Linked DNA regions of Homo sapiens. The protein of the gene in region 2 purifies or fractionates together with the protein of the main gene of each other region. This does not show direct contact. Each region holds a gene or a part of one and is shown on either strand. Other genes may lie near its edges.

Region 1 (8,152 bases), on a different chromosome or scaffold from region 2:
GCATTTTAGTAACCAGACACAAAACCAATGAGCCAAAGGTGTTTTTGTTTTTGTTGTTGTTTGTTTATTTGTTTTAAGACAGGGTCTCGGTCTGTCGAGTGCAGTGTCATGATCCTGGCTCATTGCAACCTCCGCCTTCCGGGTTCAAGCAATTCTCGTGCATCAATCTCCCGAGTAGGTGGGAATACAGGTGTGCACCAACACACTAGGCTATTGTTTGTATTTTTTAATAGAGATGGGTTTTCACTATATTGGCCAGGCTGGTCTCGAACTTCTGGACTCAAGTGATCCACCCGCCTCGGCCTGCCAAAGTGCCGGGATTACAGATGTGAGCCACAGTGCCCGGCCCAGAGATTATATTTAAATGGCTTTTACACTTCAGAAATAGTGCTCTGTCCCCCCTTTGCAGTGCTTTGGTACGTTTGATAAGAGCCTGTTTTTTTTTCCAGTGGTGCTTCAAACTCATCTTGAACATTCCAGTCTGCCAGAGAACTCTAGAACATGGTGAGTTTGAAGGCTGCGAGGGTGGAAGGAGAGGAATGTGGAACAGGAGGAGGAGTCAGGAAAGGCAAGACTCATTTCTTCCTTACTAGCCGCTGCTTTCCAGACCTATGTAGGTTTCACCACTACAGCCTTAGAGCCAAGCTGAAGGTGGATTTGTTCAAATCACATCTCGTCATCCTTATTAACAAAGACACCCAGCACAGTCAGGCATCTTAACTAGGTCAACCTGTATCACTTTAACATGCCTACTTTTTTTCTCTAATCAAAATGGGAGAATGCTGTACATGGGTTTGTCACAGAGAAAAATTATGATGCTTTAAAAACACACACAGAGAAATAATAGGTTTTATGCAAATGTCAAGACATTATAAATAAAGAAAATAATGTTATTTGTTATGCAGGCTAAACACTGACCAACTCACTCAATATATTCTGGAAGTGGCAAAATAAAATTGGAAAAGTAGAACAAGTAATTTAACATACTACACTTATCTTCATATAAATTACTGCAATGAGGCGCCATCACCATCACCATCAAAAAAAGAAGAATTCCTACAATCAATATGTGGAATTTTAGCTAAAAAAGAAAAGTCTATTTAGAAGTCTGTCACAGCCACATGGTTACCTCAAGCCTTACCTCATCACTGCTCCACCGGTTTGGGAATGAGGGGCGTAACTTCTTGATGCACACAATCTCCCTCATGTCCTCATAAGAGGGGTCACTGGGCACTAGGTCATGATAAGGAAGCTGGTATTCTTCCACTATACCTAAAAATATGTTGTTACTATTATTATTATTATTATTATTTTCTGTGAAGTAGAAATAAAAGTCTAACACAGTTCTCAAAGGAAAAGTGCTATCAGTATTACAGACAAGTTCAGGCAGAAAAATAGCAAAATAAATCTTGAAAAATATTTACCCAAATGGTACTTAATCTAATTTAGAAAAAATGAATACAAAGCCCAATGAAAAATATTGTCATAGGTCTTCAAGCCTTTCTTTCCTAATTTCCAAAAGCTAAGTAAAACAAGCATCTTAAATTTATTTCCATTTTTATGAAGAACAAATTAAAAGACAAATCTATATTAAATCTCAATGCAAATCTGCAAGACATATCCTGAACTCATACTACATGTGACTGTTTCTATTACTATAGTATGAAACTATGAATATCATAATAAATTCAGAAGTGTATCCTACTTGAACAAAATGTCAGATTTACATTTTTTCTGCTTAATTGTAGGAATGTGGTTTTGCACATTAAAAATTTAGAAAATTACAGACACCCAAAAATATTAACCATGAATTTTTTAGGTTCAAGGATTATCTGATTTTTTTCCTATATTTATCCAAATTTTCAGTAAGGAATACATTACTATTAGAAAAAATATGTATTGTTAAAAGAAAAGAAATATAAATCTATAGCATCTTCATAAAAATGCACACTAAACTTTCATTTTATTGTTCCTAGTATTTAATTTCTACCTTCTTCCTCTTCTCCTTTAAAAATGCAGGCTTCTAGTATCTTCTTTTTCACCTTCTTAAGATTAACTCCTTATAATAATTACATTAGAGGCTGCTGCTCTGAACAATCTTTTGGGAGCACCCCTCCTCCCTATCCTAAATCATCTTTTATAGAAATATCATTGCTTTTCATCTGAAAAAGATGATGCCGTCAAGTTGGCAGATTATATATCACATCGTTAAATTCACTGGGGGCTTACTCTGCCAAAATCTGGGGTCTGTGTTATGTTCTTTCTTGTAAACTCAAATCTGTTATAAAATCATCAAGGACCAGAAGGTTCAGAAGTTTTTTCAGACCATTCCAACTCACCATTTGTCCTGTGCCCTGCTGTGACCACAGAGCTAATTATATGTATTATCTATGTTAATATTTCCTTTCACTGTGTTTTACCTCCATATGAGATAAGAAAAGCACAGGGCCTAACACGCAGGATGTGCTCTGCTTCATTTCAGTTCTTTCTCCCTTTCTCATTCTCAGGACCATGGCCCTGGAAACAGCCTGAAGGCAAAGCCCACATCTCTTTAACCCATCTCCTATTTTCCGCTGGTGGATGGACTGATGGATGGGGTGGGGTAGGTGTATCTACTACAACAGACGAAGGCAGAGCTCACCACTTAAAATTATGAATTACTCAAATCTAACTGTTGAATAATAGGCCTTATTCTTTTCTCCATGTCATGTAATCAAGTTTTCAAAATTTCCTGTTAGCTGCCATTTAACTCTGTTTGAAACCTCAAACCTTTCTGTCTTTCTTCTCCTTTAAAAGATGGAAAGGCCTACATCTGGATGTGTCTCTTTCACCCAGAAGGGCCTGGACTAGAAAGATAAGCCCAAAAAACTTCTAATATCTTCATAAAGTGTTAGAAAATAGAATTTTGTGTGCTTTGCCTCTCTGGAAAAATAAAATCGCTTATTGAGAGCTTCCTCTATCCCAGTTGTGGAAACAGGTATGCTATATAAATTATCTTATTAAATTCTCACAAATGCGTTTCTGAGATGACATTATTCTCCACACTACTCAGATGAGGAAACTTGGCTCTCAGGGGTTAAGTAACTTGCCCAAGTCCATTCAGTTGGTATGGGACAGAGCAGGGACTCCAACACCTCTAACAATAAGGCAACATTATAGCAAATCTCCACATCCAAAGACAGCCCTAGCAAAGCAAATTAATACCCTAGCACAGCAATTAATACCCTGCTGTTTATATAAAGCTACTTTGTTTTTAAGCTGAGAATAATTTCTCCTGTATTTGGCCCACAGGCTTTCAAATATAGGCTTCCTGTAGCCCTGTTTGTTTTAGATGTTCAAGAAAACATAATTAGAAAAATAACCTTGTTCTCTACACCTTCAACTTCCATAAAGCTATCTTAATTAAGTATAAGCATATTATTTTTTAAAAGGCTCGTCTACTTGTTTTTTTTTTTTTTTTCTTTTTAAATACAGACTGGGTCCCAATCTATTGCCCAGACTAGTCCTCAACTCCTGGCTTCAACTGATCCTCCCCGCTTGGACTCCCAAAATGCTGGGAATGCAAACGTGAGGCTTATCTACTCTTTATAATGCGTGAAATCAAGGCATAGACAATTTGTTAAATTTTTTGGTTACTTCTTCTTTACACTTAGAATGAGAAATTTATTCAATATCTGGTTAGAGAAAATTTCCTGCATTAACTTTCCTTTTGCACAAAATAGTTCCCTCACTTCAGAGAGTATGTGTTCTATTTCAAATTTCTTAAAACAGGTTCAGAATTCCCAAAGTGATTATTAGAAGGCACTGTGCCACTGATAATGATCTTTCTATTGAAGTGTGAATGCAGGTTGATTAACTGTTTCTTCTTTGTATTTAAATATGAACCTAAAGATGTTATGGCTCTACCAACCAAAATGAAAAGTATTAATAGTAATAATAGCTAACATGTATTGAGTGCTATTTATGTGCCAGGCAGTTCTCATTATCTTTACATTGAAACCATACAACCACAGAAGCAGATACAATAATTCAATTCATCTTTAAGAGGACTCTGAAACAAAGAAAAGTTTATAACCTGTCCAAGGCATCACAGATAAATAGCAGGAACAAGAACACATCTCAGTACTAGTTAAGTGCATGCTGCACTTTCAGAATCTTCAGCAAGCTCATGTTTTCATGAAGATAGACTTAAATTGGCCATTATGAGGAACAGCAGCAGCATCAAGGTTTTTTAATGAGCACAACCATGGAATAACATACAGAAGAGTTGATACAGAAAAGCCAAAGATTCAGCTCCTTGCCTAAAAGGTGTCAGAATTTACTCGAAGACAGACTGTAGAGCAATCAAAATAGTACAAGTAATAATACTTCTGAATATTTAAATATGTCTTCTTGTTCATTATAATTGTTTTTACTAGGGAATCCTCATATGTGTAGAAAAAACAATATAAAAAAATAATACTCTGATACTTTAATTTCCTTTTGATAAAAAACTGATGTTTTCAAATTGCTTTATGGGGAAGTTTTATAAAAAATACAGCAGGTAAGAAATGGGTGTCCGACCCCACATTTATGGCCTACTGTCATCTCTGCAGAGGAAATCCCAGGGAATGGAGTTGGGGATGGGGCCCAGCAGCTAGGTGAGAATAAACTGGCAGGGACAGAAAAGGGGGTTTGATTTCATCGAGCAACTGCTGGAGGAAGAACCCAAGACAGAAATAAGACAATACACAGAGCAGAAAACAGTGATGCTTGAAAAAGCAGGGTAGGCTGACAGTGTGTCTAGTGGCAGCTGGAGGAAGGAAGCAGTCAAAGATTATTCTAGGATGTCGAATATAATTTCCTGGAAGCACTATGACTGCATCAACAGAAATAAAGGGGAAAATAAAACCAGATCTTATAGACAGTATGATAACTTTGATTTCTGATCAGAAAGAAAGGATTTATAGTAGCTCCAATAGTAGCTTTTCAAAGACAGCACTGTTTCTTACCTCCTGATACACATCTCCTAGCAACCTCCCAAAGGATGAGGCCAAAACTATACATGTCAGCCATGATGTAAGACTGGAAGTGATTTCTGTTCAAGCTCTCGTCCAACACTTCTGGAGGCATATAGCGTTTGGTGCCAACTCGAGTGTTAGGTGGTATGTCAACTTCATTTGTATCACTAAGGAAAAAGTAAAGCAAAGCATTACAGCATTGAAGAGGACCAACAAAAACGAATCAAGGTGATTCTGAAACAATGGCTTTAGTTAGTGAAAAGTGGAAAAGAAAAACTTTCCAGGGAATAAAAACAATTTCTTAAAGAATATTTCTTGCCAAAAGCTATATTAAATATTTACAGGTTAAAAGCCAATGAAAGGCAAGCTGATACTGTGGTGCATGCCTGTAGGCCCAGCTATTCTGGAGGCTGAGGTGGAAGGATAGCTTGAGCCTAGAGGTTCAAGGCCTGACTGGGCAACATAGTGAGATGCCATCTCTTAAAAAAAGTTAGAAAAAAAAAACAATGAAGATAAAACTCAGTCAGAATGAAGCTGCAGCATTTAAAATTGCATTACCAATAGATCAAATTTATACCCTAAACAACTGCTAAATATATATTAAATATCTAAAAAAACCCTCTTCCTTCCCCTCCTATTTTAAAAACTTTACTCTTAAAATGGGCATGCACACATGACAATTTCATGTGAAACAGTATTTTTTAAGCCAGCTGTTGTAAAGCTCTTAGATCTATAAACAGGTTTCAAAAGGGGAGAAGGAGAGAACCAACAAAGACATGCAATTGTTTTACTCTGACAAGGTGGGACATATAAAAAAGCTTTCTGCTATCACTATTGTTTTATGAACCAAATAGCATTTAACTTTTTTTTTCAAAGGAAGAAAACAATAATGGAATATAACATCTTTAACTTTCTGAAAATTTTACAACAGGCCCATTTACTATTCCTTCCCATAGACTGGGAAAAGAGTAATGACGGAGGGACAACAACCTGCACACTGGCACTTGGGAACCATTGCTTCAGTGCGATGAGCTGGAGCCACAGTTCCAGCCCCTGTTCTAAGGGTGCTGAATGACTAGGCTGATGATTAAATGAGATGACATGTACAAGCCCTGCCAACATGGTACTAGGCACATATTAGATACTTAAGTACTGTAACTCATCAGAAAGTAAAGGAACTAGGTAGAAAAGTAACAAACCCTAGATATGACAGATGAACAGACTATAACCAAATAAGGTATACTATAAAACCAAAAAGGTACAGAAACTCATTATTAAGCTGAACTCTGTGGAAAATCTTGAATAAACCTTTCTACCTCCTGATTCCCAACAATTTTTTTTTTTGCTTTTGCTTTTCATTACACTCTATTGACTTTCAAGAATTTACATGTTATTTCTCCTCAGCCTGGAAAACAGATTCATTTATCGAATATCACACTTATCCTGCTGTCATAGATAGTCAATACCAAAACACTAGTGGCTTCAGGAAAAAAACAAAAATCAAAAACCTCTGGGTTTGATCTCATTGCCTTGACCACTTCTACAACATGAAATACATGGTGTCATTTTTTGTCATTTGAGAACATTTTAAGTGTCATTCTGAATATCTCAAAATTTTTACATTTACTAAAACATAAAATGCAAAACTTCATTTTAGAACATTTTAAAGTCACTTCCGGCTAGAATTCTTAATCTAAAATTTTATGTTTTAGATAAGATGACATATCAACAGATATGTCATCAGTGTACTCATTAGGCCCCTCGTGGTTTTCTAGGTGCAATAATAACTAGCCTGTTTTCTTAAATAAAAGTTAAGACGTTAAAAAAAAAGTTAAAGTGTAATTAAAAAACAAAACAGATGGTATTCTTTACCATATGCAAACATAGGTCCCAGTGTTCTGGGATCTTTTCTAAAACTGGAAAAAGAGGCTAAAATGTTAATTCTCAGCACTTATTGGTATAATAGAAAATTGTCATTTGTATGTGTAAATGATAAATGACAGGGGAGGAAAGTATGCTGAGAAGAGACTTAATGGTAAACTGGAAACATGTCAGATTGAATAGATGCTACAAAAGCTCCATTTCCATTTATAAAGCACGCTCTCCTCCTACTCCACCTGCTGACACCTCTCATGGGAGCAGAGTAGGGATTTCACTAATGTGGTGCCAGCATGTCCTAATTTTAATTTTTAATCATGAGGAAGATAGTGGTGACCCCAGGTAAGAAGTCCTGGGTCCCATGCAGAGAAAACAAACATGAGGGTTTGCAGATGAAAAGAAGATGGTTAAAGACCTCCACTGTATTCCAGAACAAGAAGAATCTTAAGACAATCCACACAGAAGGGCATTTAGAAAGGCCAAAGGTGTAATCTGACCACAGTTGATAAAGATTTTAGGCAATTTCATTCCATTCTTACTCTTAGCTCCTTAATGTTTATTTGGATTTGGGAGGTCAGGAAAAGATAATGGAATGTGTGATGTAGAGATATCTATTAGAAAAATGAAAGGTAATTGTGACCTAATAATAGAATTAAAATTTGTGACAGCTGGAGTATACATAGTTCATCTCTAAATTCTTTTTCTCAAACACTGCAAAAACATACACTCAAGGATTCTGAATGTCCACCAAATGCCAAAAATCAGTCCTTTACATAGTCCCTTAAATACATATGCATGTTCAGCAATAAGCCATCTCTCTCCTCCCCTTCCTCTCCCACCCTAGACGTTTGCCCTAGTAGTAGCTGAATAAATCTTCTCCCTAGTAACATTTGAGTAAGTAATCTGTTTTCCAACTGAAGACTATCAACTCCTCTGAGCCCCCAAATACTTGTCATAGTCATTTGGTATATCCCCAAAGAGCATAGCCCCAATCCTTCTCCATTCGCAGTGTGTCTTGCACATGACAGGAAAATAATGTACTTTAAATGAAAGAAGGAAAAGGTTTGTTTACACTAAACTTTGCTATGGATAATTTAAAGGGAAATGTAAAAATCTCTGGACTGCATGGGCCATAAAATGAGATCTTACCAATTTCTAGAAGGATAAATAGAATTTTGTTGAGCAAACTAATTTTGTGAAAGATCACTATCAACCTATTGGCAAGTGCCTTTAGCACTACACTTAAACAACAAACATGAGAATTATAGGTAATC
Region 2 (4,877 bases):
CCATGGCCCCATTCTGCTGAGCAGGAGGAAGACTTAACCTCAGTTATGCTTAGGGCTTTTCTGCCTATTCCGTGGATCTGGTAAGGTCTCAGGCTCTTGCACAGTGTCAGGAGGTCAGAGGGAGAGAGGCTCTAATGCCATTTGTTATGGCTGAAGTCAGTCCCCCAACACTCATGCACTGAAGCCCCAGCCCCAGGCACCTCTGCAGGGGACTGCATTTGGAGATTTGGCCTTTACAGAGGTGACTAAGGTGAAAAGAGGCCATTCATTGGGAGTCCTAATCTAATCTGACTGGTGTCCATATAAAGAGAGGAAATTCGGACCCAGAGAGACAGCAGGGACCCCACACACAGAAGGAAGACCACTCAAGAAGGCAGAAAGGGGACGGCTGACTGCAAACCCAGGAGAGGGGCCTCAGAGGAAACCAACAGTGGACACCTTGATCTTGGAATTCCAGCCTCCAGAACTGTAAGAAAATAAACCCCTGTTGTTGAAGGCCCCCATCTATAGTACTTTGTTATGGCAGCCCTGGCAAACCCATACATCACTGGCCATGCGTTCACCCGTTATATCACCATGCTCCAGTGCTCTGGGTGGGTGGACCTGCAGGTCTCAGAGCTCTGCTGCTTCAGGGCCATGTGGCTGGCACTGAGCTTGGCAGCAACTGAGGACCCTGTGTCCAAGGTCTTCTTCCCTAAATTCTCAATGGTGACACCTCTAAGGTGGGTGCTTCACTGACCCACAAACATGAGGGTGCAGTTACTGAGGGAGGAAAAATGGATACCAGTGGCAACCAGTCACCTGCTACCCTGTACCACTAGTGAAGAAACTGAGGATCAAGGAGAAGCTGTGACCTGCCCAAGGTCCACAGTCCATGTGCAGCAGCAGTGGGAAGGTGAGATTAGACTTTGGCCACATACAGTGAACTCTGTCACCACGTTAAGACTCCAGAAACCTCGCATCCAGCCGCTCCTCTGCCTAATGCCTGTTCGCACCCAGACACCACACAGACGTGGTCTGAGCAGGGCTCTTCAGAAAGACTGAAAATGTGACTGGCATACCACGTCAGTGAGGATGTGCCGGTGGGAATGAAAGCTGGCATAGCCTCTTGGAATGGGTGTTTTGGTTCAGATTAGGTTCAACTGTAAGAGAAACATCAAAAGTGGTTTGAACAAGATAGCCACTCATTTCTCTCATACGTTCCAAAAGTCATCTGAAGGTAGGACGTCCGAGGTCGTTACAGATGCACTACAGTGTCCATGACACCGGCTCTCTCTATCCTGTCGCACTGCAATGAGAAACTTCCATTCCCCAGATTACCCTATGGTTCAAGATGGCTGCTATCACTCCAGCCATTATAAGCACATTCCAGTCAGCAGGAAAGAAGGGCCACCTCTTATCTCTAAGGAAGTTGCATGCATACTTACATCCATTGGCCAGAACCCACCTGCAAGGAAGGCTAGAAAATGCAGTCTTTATTCTAGACAGCTGTGTATCTAGCGAAAAATCAGGGATTCTCTTCCAATGGAGAAAAACAACATATATTGGAGGACAACTATTGATCTCTGCAGAAGACTAATAAGAGTAATTAAAACTAATTAAGACTGTGTGCTCCAGCAATTCTACTTGCATGAGTTACCAAAAGCAAATTTATAAGGATTGTTGATGTTGCCTTGTTTGTTGTTGCAAAATTTTTCAGAAACAAAAGGGAAGTGGTTTATAAATTGCCATATATCCATATATATGTAGCTGCAGGGGTGAAGCAGTCCTCCACTTGACATGGAATGATCTCCAAGATCCATTGGAGTGAGCTACAGGACATTAGCATTACAGAAAGAGGGATGATATACACATCCGTTGGTGTGAACACAGGATGGCTCTGGAAGGTTATGGAGACCCTGGGTGCTTCAGGAGGGGGACAGAGGAATTCAGTGCCACACAGGGAGATTTATCGTTCACCAAATACCCTCCTGTACTGCATGAACCTTTTTTTTTCTTGCCATGTACATATATGACCTATTTTTAAAAAACAAACTTAAAAATTATAAAAATGGTCTCTTTTCTTCTGTTGATGCCTCTCTGCTCATTCACTGCAGCCAGCAAACTTCGGCTGACACTGTGCCATCTTGGACTGCATGTGGATCTGATGGTCAAATCCCTGCTGGCCCCAACCCTTACCCCGCTCACTCAGAATGCCGTGAGCTTGCCTTCCCTGATTACCAGGCTTTTACATGAGCTGAGAGGCCCCGATAAAGTATGCCATTCAGGGGCACCCTGCAGTACCCCCTGCAGCCCAGGAGTCCAGCTCACTGGCCGTACTGTTGGCCCTGTCCGCTATCAACCCTCCAGGCCCTCCCAGGGAGCCTGACACATTGGCCCCACAGACATGAGCTGTGTTGGAGCTTGTGCCCTCGGCACCCCATTCCCCCCTAAAAAAAAAAGGCTGATCGCGGAGGCGGGCAACAGCCTGATCCTCAGGGTCCCCACAGCCAGGGCTGAGACCTCCCCAGGCTCTGAAGCATGCAGTTGGCTGTGTCCTGGATGGGCTCCTCCTCTCCAACTCTGGGGATTACATAACTGGCAGCAACTCCCTTTCACTCTGGCTGCCAAAAAGCTCAAAGCCGAACTCAGGTACAAGGGCAGTGGCAGGGACAAGTGGGCCCCTCTCCCCTACTCATGCCTTATGATCCCAGTGCTTTGCTCTGATTTACTCCCATTTTCAGCCAACCACACCCATCCTTATGACAAACATCAGTCCCCGAGTCCTGTCTGCTGGGGGCCTACTATGTGCCAAGCACTATTCTTGAGGCTAAAAATAAGAGCTATCCTTATCGTTCATTACTGTACGCCAGCCACTCGTGCTTAGTGTTTTCCAATCCTTACAAAAGGCCCTGCAGGATGGGTCTTCTCCGCATTTTACAGATGGCAATAGTAAGTCCATTCTGCGTTTTAATGGAGCTGAGCAGAGAGAACCGGCTGCCCAAGACAACAGTGTGTGTCTGACAAAGGGAGAGGGGCTGGCTCACAAAACATAGTTCTCCTCTCTCTCCATGTCTGTCCCCCCTACTCAGATGGGCCCAGGGGCAGGGGCAGCGGCAGCTGGGATCCTGTTTCTCTTCACCTCCCCAGCAGCCAGCCCAGGGCTTGGGCACTGGGGACTGCTCCTTGGTTGAGCAGAGGCCCCCTGAGCCTCCCAGCCCCTCACCCAGCCCTCAGGCTCCTGAAAGGAACCAGCCCCAGTATTCCTGCAAAACCTCCACATTAGCACCTTCTGCTCCTTTTCCTTTTTATTAAAAAATAGATCAAGAAAATATACACACTTCAGTCCATCCACCATGGTGGATGCTTTGAGGAGGCCAAAGCACCATGGGGATGGGATGGAGGCATTGGGAGAGCCAGCCCTGCCCTCGTGCCAAGGGTGCAGAGAAGGAGGGTGCCCTCAGCCAACCTTGCCAAGCATGGCCCTGGAAGGAAAGCCTGGGCCATGTCACTGAGCAGTATGAGAGCAGGTGGGAAGGGGAGGAGGGTCCCCAGTGAGAGCAGAGATGGCAAAGGGGATTGGGAGCCCCAGGGAGGTGGGGCCTCCAGACTCATGGTGGGAACAGGGCCACACAGGGCTACTGCCCACAGAACGTCCCTTGACCTGGTCCTCCTCCCCTGGGGACTCTGGGCCTGCTGGCCTCCTCTCTGGCCTGTCCTCCACAGGCCCTGGCAGCTGCCCTCAGGCATTGATGGCCTTCCAGCGCTCGCTGTCTGTGCTGTTGATGCTGCCAGTGTGGCAGGGCATGGAAGCGATGTCATCCAGGTAGGCCACCCCGCCGGCAGAGTCGAACTGCGTGCTCGAGTAGCTGGCAGCTGAGGCCCCAGCAGCCCCTGCAGCCTCCAGGCCCTCCCGCCGGGCCACAGCGTAGGGCTGGGGTAGGTGTACATCTGGCTCCTCTGTCTCGTCCACTTGGCATTTGTAGGAGAAGAGGATCTTGGGCTCCGAGCTGATAAAAGGAAAAGAGGGGCATGGAAGCCTCACTGAGTGATTCAGGAAGAGCCTTCCTCTCCAGGCTGATGGGGCCACCAGATAAGGAAGGAATTGACCAACAGTCGCCTGACACCCACTCTGAGTGGGCCTGTGAGCTGGACCCCAGAGCCCATCTAGACTTGTTTTGGAACCCAGCCCTCCTCCCCCTGGCTGTGTGAGCTCAGGCGGGGGGCATCTGTGCCTGCTTCCTCATGGTGAAATGGGTGTGTGGACACCGTGTGGAGGAAGAATGGACATAAATCATGAGGCTTCAACAGTGCCTGCCCAAGCACTCAGGAGACATTGGCTGTGGCCTCCGCCCCCACTCCTGTGACCCCTGCTGCTCATGTTACCACCCACTCCACTCTGACCTCGTCCCTCGGCCCTCAGGGCAACTCTCCAAGGGGGACACACTACACCCAATTTACAAAAAGGAGCCTGAGGCTCAGGGGAGAAATTGTGTGCAAAGATCCAAGCTGGGGCCATGGACCAGTCTGGCCCTCTCCCAGCTTCACCCAGGTGGGAGGCTGATCCCCTCCCCACAAGACCTGGCAGGTGAGAAAGGGGGGACAAAACACCCACATTCCGACCACATTAAGGTCTGGAGTGGGACCCCCAATCCCATGTCTTCAGCATCCCATCTCACAGACGCTTCTGCAGATGCACATGTGCACAGCAGTGTACTCACCCCCAGAGAATCCAACTGACTTCCCACCCCAAACCTGCTCCCCACTTAAGTCTTCCCCCAACAGGGTACAAGCTTTGTGAGGACAGGATTTGCATCCGCTGTGGGCCTCGCATCTTCTGGCTCTAGCAGTGTCTGGCACACAGTAGGTGCTCAATGAATGCTTGCGAATGAATGAGT
Region 3 (7,315 bases), on a different chromosome or scaffold from region 2:
CCTCTCCACCTCTTCTCATGGTAAAACGCATATATATCATACATATATATAGTGTCATCAGTGTATATGTAATGAGCCATTTTCACCATCGTTAAATGTGCAATTCAGTGGCATTAAGTGCAGTCACAGTGTTGCGCAGCCACCACTTCCATCCACCTCTAGAATTTATTTTCTCAAACTGACACTCTGTCCCCACTCAACACTCCCCACCCTGTCCCCAGCCCCTGGCACCCACCCTTGCCCTCTGTCTCTGTGGATCTCCCTCCTCTCATGTAAGGCCCTGTCTCTCTCACAGGAGCAGAACCCTATAGCAAGTATCCCTTTATGATGGCTCATTTCACAGAAATGCCCTCCAGGGTCAGCCATGTTGTGTCGTGTGTTGGAATGCCTTCCCTTTCCAGGCTGGCTCATATTTCCTTGTCTGGGTGAACTACGTTGTTGTCTCTCCCTTCGTCTGCAGATGACACTGCGCTGCCGCCACTCCTTTTCTCAGTCGCACACCACCCAGCCTTTCACACGCACCCGCTCATGCAAGCCACCCTCGCCAGGCCCCCGTGACCCTTGCCAGACTCAGTGAGCATTTGCAGGTCACTGTCCTTCACCAGCAGCAGCACTGGACAGATGGAGCCAGCCACTGCTCCTCCCTGACCTGTGAGGGGTCCTCACTGGCTCAGGTTGCAGGACCCCACCAGGAACTCTCAGGCGTCCTCCCCTATCACTGCCACGTCTTCGCTCTGCCCCTCTCATTGTGTTCCGGGGCTTGCGGCGTCCCTGTGAGCTCACTCAGGCTCAGGGCTTTCAGTGTCATCTCTATGTGGTAAGAACTTGCACAGTTCCATCTCCAGTACTTTCTGGAACTCCTGTGTCCACCTGCCAACTAGACATCTCCACTTGGATGACACTTCCTGCATGACACACCCAAGGCTGACTCCAGACCATTCTCTCCTTGCCTCCCCATTGCAGGACCTGGCAGCTCCATCTTTCCTCTTGCTCAGGCCAAATCTGTTGTCCTTAACTCCTCTTTGAGCCCTGCATCCTGGTCATGCACAACCCCTATTGGCTCCACCTTCAAAATTGATCCCTGATGCAGAGTTATCCCCTCTGCTGCTACCAGCCTGGCCCAAGTGACACAAGGCACCTGTTCAGTGACAAATTCTTGGGGTAACATTTTGAAAATTTCAGCACCCATGGCTTTACGCCCACCCTTCCCCGCGGGTGTGGCTGCTCTCCAGCTCACTCTCGTCCTGCTCTCCCCAACTGCCTCGGCTCCAGGGGGACAAGGCCTTCCCCTGGGCTGCTGCCTTCCCTGCCCCCTTCCCAGTCCCCAGAAGGGTGCCGGCCGCAGAGGCCTCCAGAGCAGAGCCTTGCTCACGGCAGCAGCTCCAGCTGGAGGAGGTTCCCCCTGCCTCCTGTACCCCGACCCCTTCCTTAGAGCAGCAGAGGCGGAAGCAGGAGCCTGCTTTGGAAAATGACATGTTTTTATTGCTATGTCTGCAGTGGCTTTTTAGCACAGTAGAATGTCCCCGCAGGCCCGCCACCCTCACCCAGCCCCAGCCCTGCAGCCTCTGTCTGGGTGTCGGGGAAGCCTTTCTTGGGGTCACTCAGCCGTCTCGGGACTGGACGTGACAGACAAACGTGGGTTAAAGCTGCTACACAGAAGACTGGAGGTGCGGGAAGTGCATCCACCTTAAGCCTGGACGTGGGAGCCGTGTCCAGGGTCCCTTCCTGGGGGTGTGCCCCGCACAGGGTGGGAAGCCTGAGCAGGCCAGGTTAGCAGCCCAGACACCCAGGACGGAATATTGCAGCCTCTTGCCCCACAGACTTGTGGCAAAGGGACAGCGTGGGGACAGCCCCGAGGCCCCCACCATGCACTTTTCCAATCCAGTCTGGGGCTGGGGACCACACACGCACATCCACACAACAGACTCACACACGCAACAGCTCGAAGCTTTTGTTTTGCCTATGAAAGTTAGATCTATAAATTCACACTCCTTGGCTAGGGGCAGAGGGGTAAGGTAGGGCTCACAGGGATGGGAGTGGTAAGGAGAGGATGGTTTGGGCTCCTTCCTCTTTTTAGAAATATACAAGCAGAAATCTCATTCTCTCAAGTTTTTATAAAATGTGCAAAATACAAGCCTCCTTTGCCCAGAGGCGCCATTTACATCTGGCATTCACCTTTGCTAAGAGATAGAGATCTATATATACTCTCCGTACTCACGCACGCGTGCACTCGCACCCAAGCTCACACAATTGATACTGGTGGCGATTGGCGCAGGAACCAGAAGGTTCCATTGCTGGCTGGCTCTCTAAGCTTCTATAACAGGGATGGGGAGAGGGGTATAGCCCAGCTGAAATATTTGCCTTGGTTCTGCTGCCCCTCCCCTGCCTCCCTTCTCCTCTCTCTCCTCCCTCCCGTCTCTCCCTCCTTCCCTTCCTCACATTTCCCAAGCTGCCACTGCTGCTTCTGGGGTGAGGGGTCACCCACGGGTGTGCTGCAGAGCAGAGCCTGGAGAGGTGGGCAGGGGGTGGGCGTGGCAGGGGCAGGAGGAGTGCAGCACTGTGGGTGGGGGTGGGGCACTAGGCGGGGCCTAGGACCAGCTCGGCTAGGGCTGGAGGGGGAGAGGCATCTATTTTTGGTGGGTTGTGATATTTTTGGCGTTTTATTAAAAATGGAAAAAGTTGTTTTAGTGAGCACTCATGGTGCTTTCTCCCCTCCTCCCCCAGGCAGACCCCAAAAGTGTCAGGGAAAGGCAGGCCCCCTGGAGGGGTGCGGTGGGGCTGAAGCAGGGGCTGCTATGGCTACCAGAGGTGAGCTGGTGATGTGAGCTGAGTTGTCACATGACACTCTCCACCACGACGACCTTGCTGCTCTCGGACACTGGGGTCAGGGTGGTCAGGCCCCTGACATCTGCGTCCTGAGCTCGGTACTCCAAGTGGTGGAGGCCCCAGATGGGCTGGGTCAGGTGCTGCCAGCGCTGCAGGAGAGGAGGACATGCTGAAGCCCCCAGGGTCACCTGCTCGTCCCCACGGTGACTTCCTCTGCCTCTCTCCGGTTCCCACTGCCTGCCACCCTAGTCGGGGCCACTCCCTGGCTAGGAAGCAGGCTGGGTTGAATGTTCACAGCAGGGGAGGGGAGGGCGGGCCGGGCGGGAGCCTTACCTCAGCCATGGTGCCCTTGGCCCTGAGGAGGCAGCCCAGGAGGTGCAGCGGCACGCACAGCATGGAGGACAGGGCGAAGGCCCAGCCCATGGCCTCACCCCACCACGGGTACACGTAGGTGTTGTTGTAGACCAGCGGCTCGTAGTACACAACGTTGAAGATGAAGATGCCCTACGGACCAGAATGCTGCGGTTAATGGGGCCCCTACCCCGCCCTGCCTCGCCCCCCGCCCTGCCCCACCTCCCCCAGCCCTTACCATGCAGACCAGCGGGGTGAAGAAGGACCAGCACCATTTCATCCAGGGGCAAGGTCGGTACCCGATCATACAGGCAATGTCGTCCATGAAGCGGTCAGCTCCTGCGGCGAGGTGAGGCGGGAGGGCCAAGCTGGAGACCTGCCTTCCCCGCCACCATCCCCCAGCCCAGCCCTCAGCCATGACCTACCGTACACCCAGGCCACCACCACGCACTCCCAAAAGGCCTGCCAGAGCAGGGTGGTGCCGCTGGCCGAGTAGTAGTCAAACAGCTGGAAGACGTACATCCCGCCCTGGGGGACAGAGCCCAGTCAGGGAGGATGGCAGACGGCCACCAGAGGTCACAGGCAGACCCCCCACCCCACTCACATCAGTCACCATGGAGAGATCGATGACAAAGCAGAGGGCACAACAGAGGGCCACAGAGATCTCCCTTTGGAAACGGAAGTAGTAGGAGGCCGGGAGGAGGTCGAGGAGGCCGGTGATGAAGCCCTCCACACCTACAAACTGTGGCCAGGGCAGCTCAGGCCGAGCCCCGCACCGCCCTCCACCCCTTTCCTTGCCTGCAGCCCTCCCTCCGCCCCCCTCCTGGCTCCCTGTCCCAGAGCCCCATGCAAACCTGGCTGTCGAGACCAAGCAGCAACAGCATGAAGAAGAACAGGGCAGCCCAGAGTGGGGCCACTGGCATCAGCGTGACAGCCCGCGGGTAGGCGATGAAGGCCAGGCCCGGCCCTGTGGGAAAGGTGCAGGCTCTAGACCTTGTAGCCGATGTCCTGCCCTGTGCGCACCCTGAGCCCTGCCTGCAACACTCGCGCCCATGCCCACGCCTGCCTCAGAGGCGCTGTCAACCCTGGGTCGTGCGGCAGGGGCTGGGAGGTCCTTTCTCTGTCAACATTGACAAATCCCAGGACCTGCCCCCACAGGCCCACAATCTGACAAGTTCCGTTTGAATCCTCGTCACTTTTCAGCATTTCTATTGCATGTTCCTGTACATCATGCATCTGGGTAGCACTCGCTGCTCTGGAGGCGGGGCTGGGGGTAGGGCCCTACCTGACTCTGCCACCTTGGAGATGTGCACGCCCTGCTCTGCAGCCATGAAGCCCAGGATGGAGAAGACCACGAAGCCAGCAAAGAAGCTGGTCCCACTGTTGATGAGAGCCAGGATGATGGCGTCCCTGAGGGGTGGAGGGGCCAGAGTGGATGGGTTAGGCTGCTGGGCAGGGCGGGGCAGGGCAGGACAGGGCACGGGTGGCAGGGCGGCGGTGCTTACTTGTAGCAGTTGTTGTTGAAGCGGTTGTAGCTGCCCAGGGCTGTGAGGGCCCCCAGGCCAATGGCGTAAGAAAAGAAAATCTGGGTCCCCGCATCTATCCACACCTAGAGAAGGGCCGGAGAGCGCAGGCATGAGGGGCCTGCAGGGCTCCCCCGCAGCGCCCTGCTGCAGCCTCTCCACCTCCACCTCACCTGAGGGGACCCCAGCTTTGACCAGTCAGGCTTGAGATAGTAAATGATGCCATCCAGGGCGCCAGGCAGCAGCACTCCACGCACCAGCAGCACGACCAGGACCACGTAGGGGAATGTAGCAGTGAAGTACACGATCTGGGGGGCCAGGCTGCTCAGCGGAGGCTGTGGCACCACCTCCCTCACACCCCCACTCCCAGCGCCTCCGGTCCCCCTTGCGGGCAGGTATGTTCAGAGGTCCCCATTGTCCTCCGAGCCATGGCTCCCGCCAGAGGAAGCTAGGGGCAAGGCTGCGCCCCGGCAGCCCTGGCCAAGTGCAGTGGGGAAGCTCCCTGGGCGCCTCGTTTGTCTGCAGGGACGCGTGTCGGTGGGGAGCAGGCGAGCCTCTGGGAGCTCTCCTCAGTGGGGACAGGAGGCGTGGAGCACGTGGGGAGTGAGAGCTGTATGAGTGTGTGGGCAGTGCAGGTGTGGGAGGCCCAGGCAGGGAGCGGGATATTGGATCCGGGTCGGGTCCCCCTCCTCTTCTGGAGAGAGGTGGGGGTTGAGCAGGTGGAGAGTGGAACTGGGCCAGGCAGAGGCAGGCGAGATGCAGCTGCCACACTGTCTGCCCCCTCTTCCCACATGCTGCTCTGGGGACCTTGTCCCCCAGGGAGCTGGCCATGTCCCACAGCTCTAGACACTGTCTTCTTTGTTCAGGTGACTCCCCAGCCTGACCAGGAGCCCCCAAGGGATGTGGCCAGACTCTGCTCTGGGTCCCCAAGGCAAGATAGGTAACAGATGGCCAGACCAGGTCCACCAGACTGTCACAAGAGTCAGAGACTGGCAGGAGGGCACCAGTGGGGGTGATGGGCACAGGGAAGGGACAGTGCCTGCCAGGGCCTCTATCCCCAGGAGCAAAGGCTGCTGGGCCCTGGATTTGCAGGGTGGGGAGCATTGCTTGGCTTTCAGTACCTCCCCCTTCCTTAGGGCTAGACTCTGTCTGGTCACCTCCCGTTGCCACAGGTGTGCCTGGCACAGACATCCGGCTCCCAGGGCTGAGCCACCCTCCCCGCTGCATGCCTCTAGTGGTACCTTTCCCGTGGATTTGACCCCCTTCCAGACACAGAAGTAGACCAGCACCCAGCAGGCCAGCAGACAAAGGGTCACCTCCCAGTTGAGGGCCCCTGGCACCTCCAGTCCCCCAGACAGCCTCAAGACTTTGTTCCTAGGGGAGGGAGGGAGGTCCCATGAGGCCTGTGCCAGCAGAGGATGGAGCCACAGGGTCCACCCCCAGGAGTTGTGGCTCCCTTCTCTCCCACAGCCCAGGGTTCAGCGGGTCCCTCTTGTCCAATTGGGCTGGGCCTGGAGCCCACGATCCCCTGGCCATTGGGAGGCCACTCCCATCCCACCTCACATGCAGCCCCAGCTCCCCCATCAGGGGGGAGTGACCAGGACAGTGATCGGCTGCCGAACCCAGGAGCGAGGCTGGCCCCAGGACTCTCCGAGGACAGGCAAGGGCAGGCAGGGTCCAGGATGGACTGCCAGGCAACACCCTGGTGCCCCCTCAGGGCCACTCCCCTGGAGCCGGGCAACATGAGGGAGACCTGGGGGATGGGATGGGCTTGGCCCAGAGGTGCCGGACTCACTCCCAGAACTCGATGACAGGGGACCGGCGGTCAGCAAGCTGGTCACAGGTGAGGTTGGCCAGGCTGGCATTGGCACAGTCTTCATGGCGGAAGATCTCCACGCAGTCGGGAGTGTTCCAGGTGTGGCCACATGTGGCCCAGGGCAGCGTGGTGGTAAAGGACTTGACCAGGTAATAGAAGCCCCAGGCCAGCACCATGATGTAGTAGGTGTTGCAGTAGAAGACGATCACCATGGAGGCGTAGCCCAGGCCTGGGGCCGGGAAGTCCTTGCCATGTAGATTCTTCCCTGGCCACCTCCCCCTGCCACCCCTTTATGTCCCCACCCAGGCTGGCCGTGCTCCCACCATCTGTCCTCCTGGAGCCTTGTTTGTGGTGCTCCTGACTCCCCTGGGCTCCCCCTTGTGTGAGCCCCAACACTGCGCTGACTCCCCAGCCTGTCTCCTCTCCTCCAGCCGCCCCCTAGACCCAAGGCAGAGCGAGCCCCTCTCCTCCTGTCCCCATCTGACCAAGTGCTGTGGAGTCTCCAGCCTCATACACCTGGCCCCTTCTGTGGGTCCCACTGCCACCATGGCGGTTCCAGGAGGTCCAAGCCTCTGCCTGGCCACCCAGTAGCCTCCAGTCCTCAGCAGCTGGTGTTGATGGTGGTGGTGGGGGGGGGGGGTTTCTAGTCGCCTGAGGTAGTGTTGGAGACAGTCGCCCCTGCAGTGGGCAACCTCAGTACGTCGCTCCACCTGTCTGTGCCCCAGCGTCCTTGGGGATAGTAACAGTAGGACCTACCTAGAGAGCCAAGGGTGCTGCTGGGCAGGTCCCGTCCCCAGCC

Evidence for each region. The genes of interacting proteins can lie anywhere in the genome.
Region 1: the proteins of TPRA1 (region 2) and BMPR1B purify together in Homo sapiens (affinity purification with mass spectrometry; 2 studies listed by BioGRID and IntAct, with this or other methods). This does not show direct contact.
Region 3: the proteins of TPRA1 (region 2) and SLC6A8 purify together in Homo sapiens (affinity purification with mass spectrometry; 2 studies listed by BioGRID and IntAct, with this or other methods). This does not show direct contact.

Annotation. Positions count from the first base shown.
Region 1 is NC_000004.12:95,145,763-95,153,914, reverse strand, and holds part of BMPR1B (bone morphogenetic protein receptor type-1B isoform b precursor), read right to left. Parts: intron 5,168-8,152; coding exon 4,992-5,167; intron 1,273-4,991; coding exon 1,142-1,272; intron 1-1,141. UniProt on the Homo sapiens protein: On ligand binding, forms a receptor complex consisting of two type II and two type I transmembrane serine/threonine kinases.
Region 2 is NC_000003.12:127,569,800-127,574,676, forward strand, and holds the end of TPRA1 (transmembrane protein adipocyte-associated 1), read right to left. Parts: intron 3,990-4,877; coding exon 3,722-3,989; 3' UTR 1,433-3,721; downstream 1-1,432.
Region 3 is NC_000023.11:153,690,734-153,698,048, reverse strand, and holds the end of SLC6A8 (sodium- and chloride-dependent creatine transporter 1), read right to left. Parts: intron 6,746-7,315; coding exon 6,496-6,745; intron 6,075-6,495; coding exon 5,942-6,074; intron 5,009-5,941; coding exon 4,874-5,008; intron 4,787-4,873; coding exon 4,683-4,786; intron 4,588-4,682; coding exon 4,463-4,587; intron 4,145-4,462; coding exon 4,032-4,144; intron 3,920-4,031; coding exon 3,782-3,919; intron 3,706-3,781; coding exon 3,603-3,705; intron 3,517-3,602; coding exon 3,416-3,516; intron 3,331-3,415; coding exon 3,160-3,330; intron 2,976-3,159; coding exon 2,835-2,975; 3' UTR 1,461-2,834; downstream 1-1,460. UniProt on the Homo sapiens protein: Creatine:sodium symporter which mediates the uptake of creatine. Plays an important role in supplying creatine to the brain via the blood-brain barrier.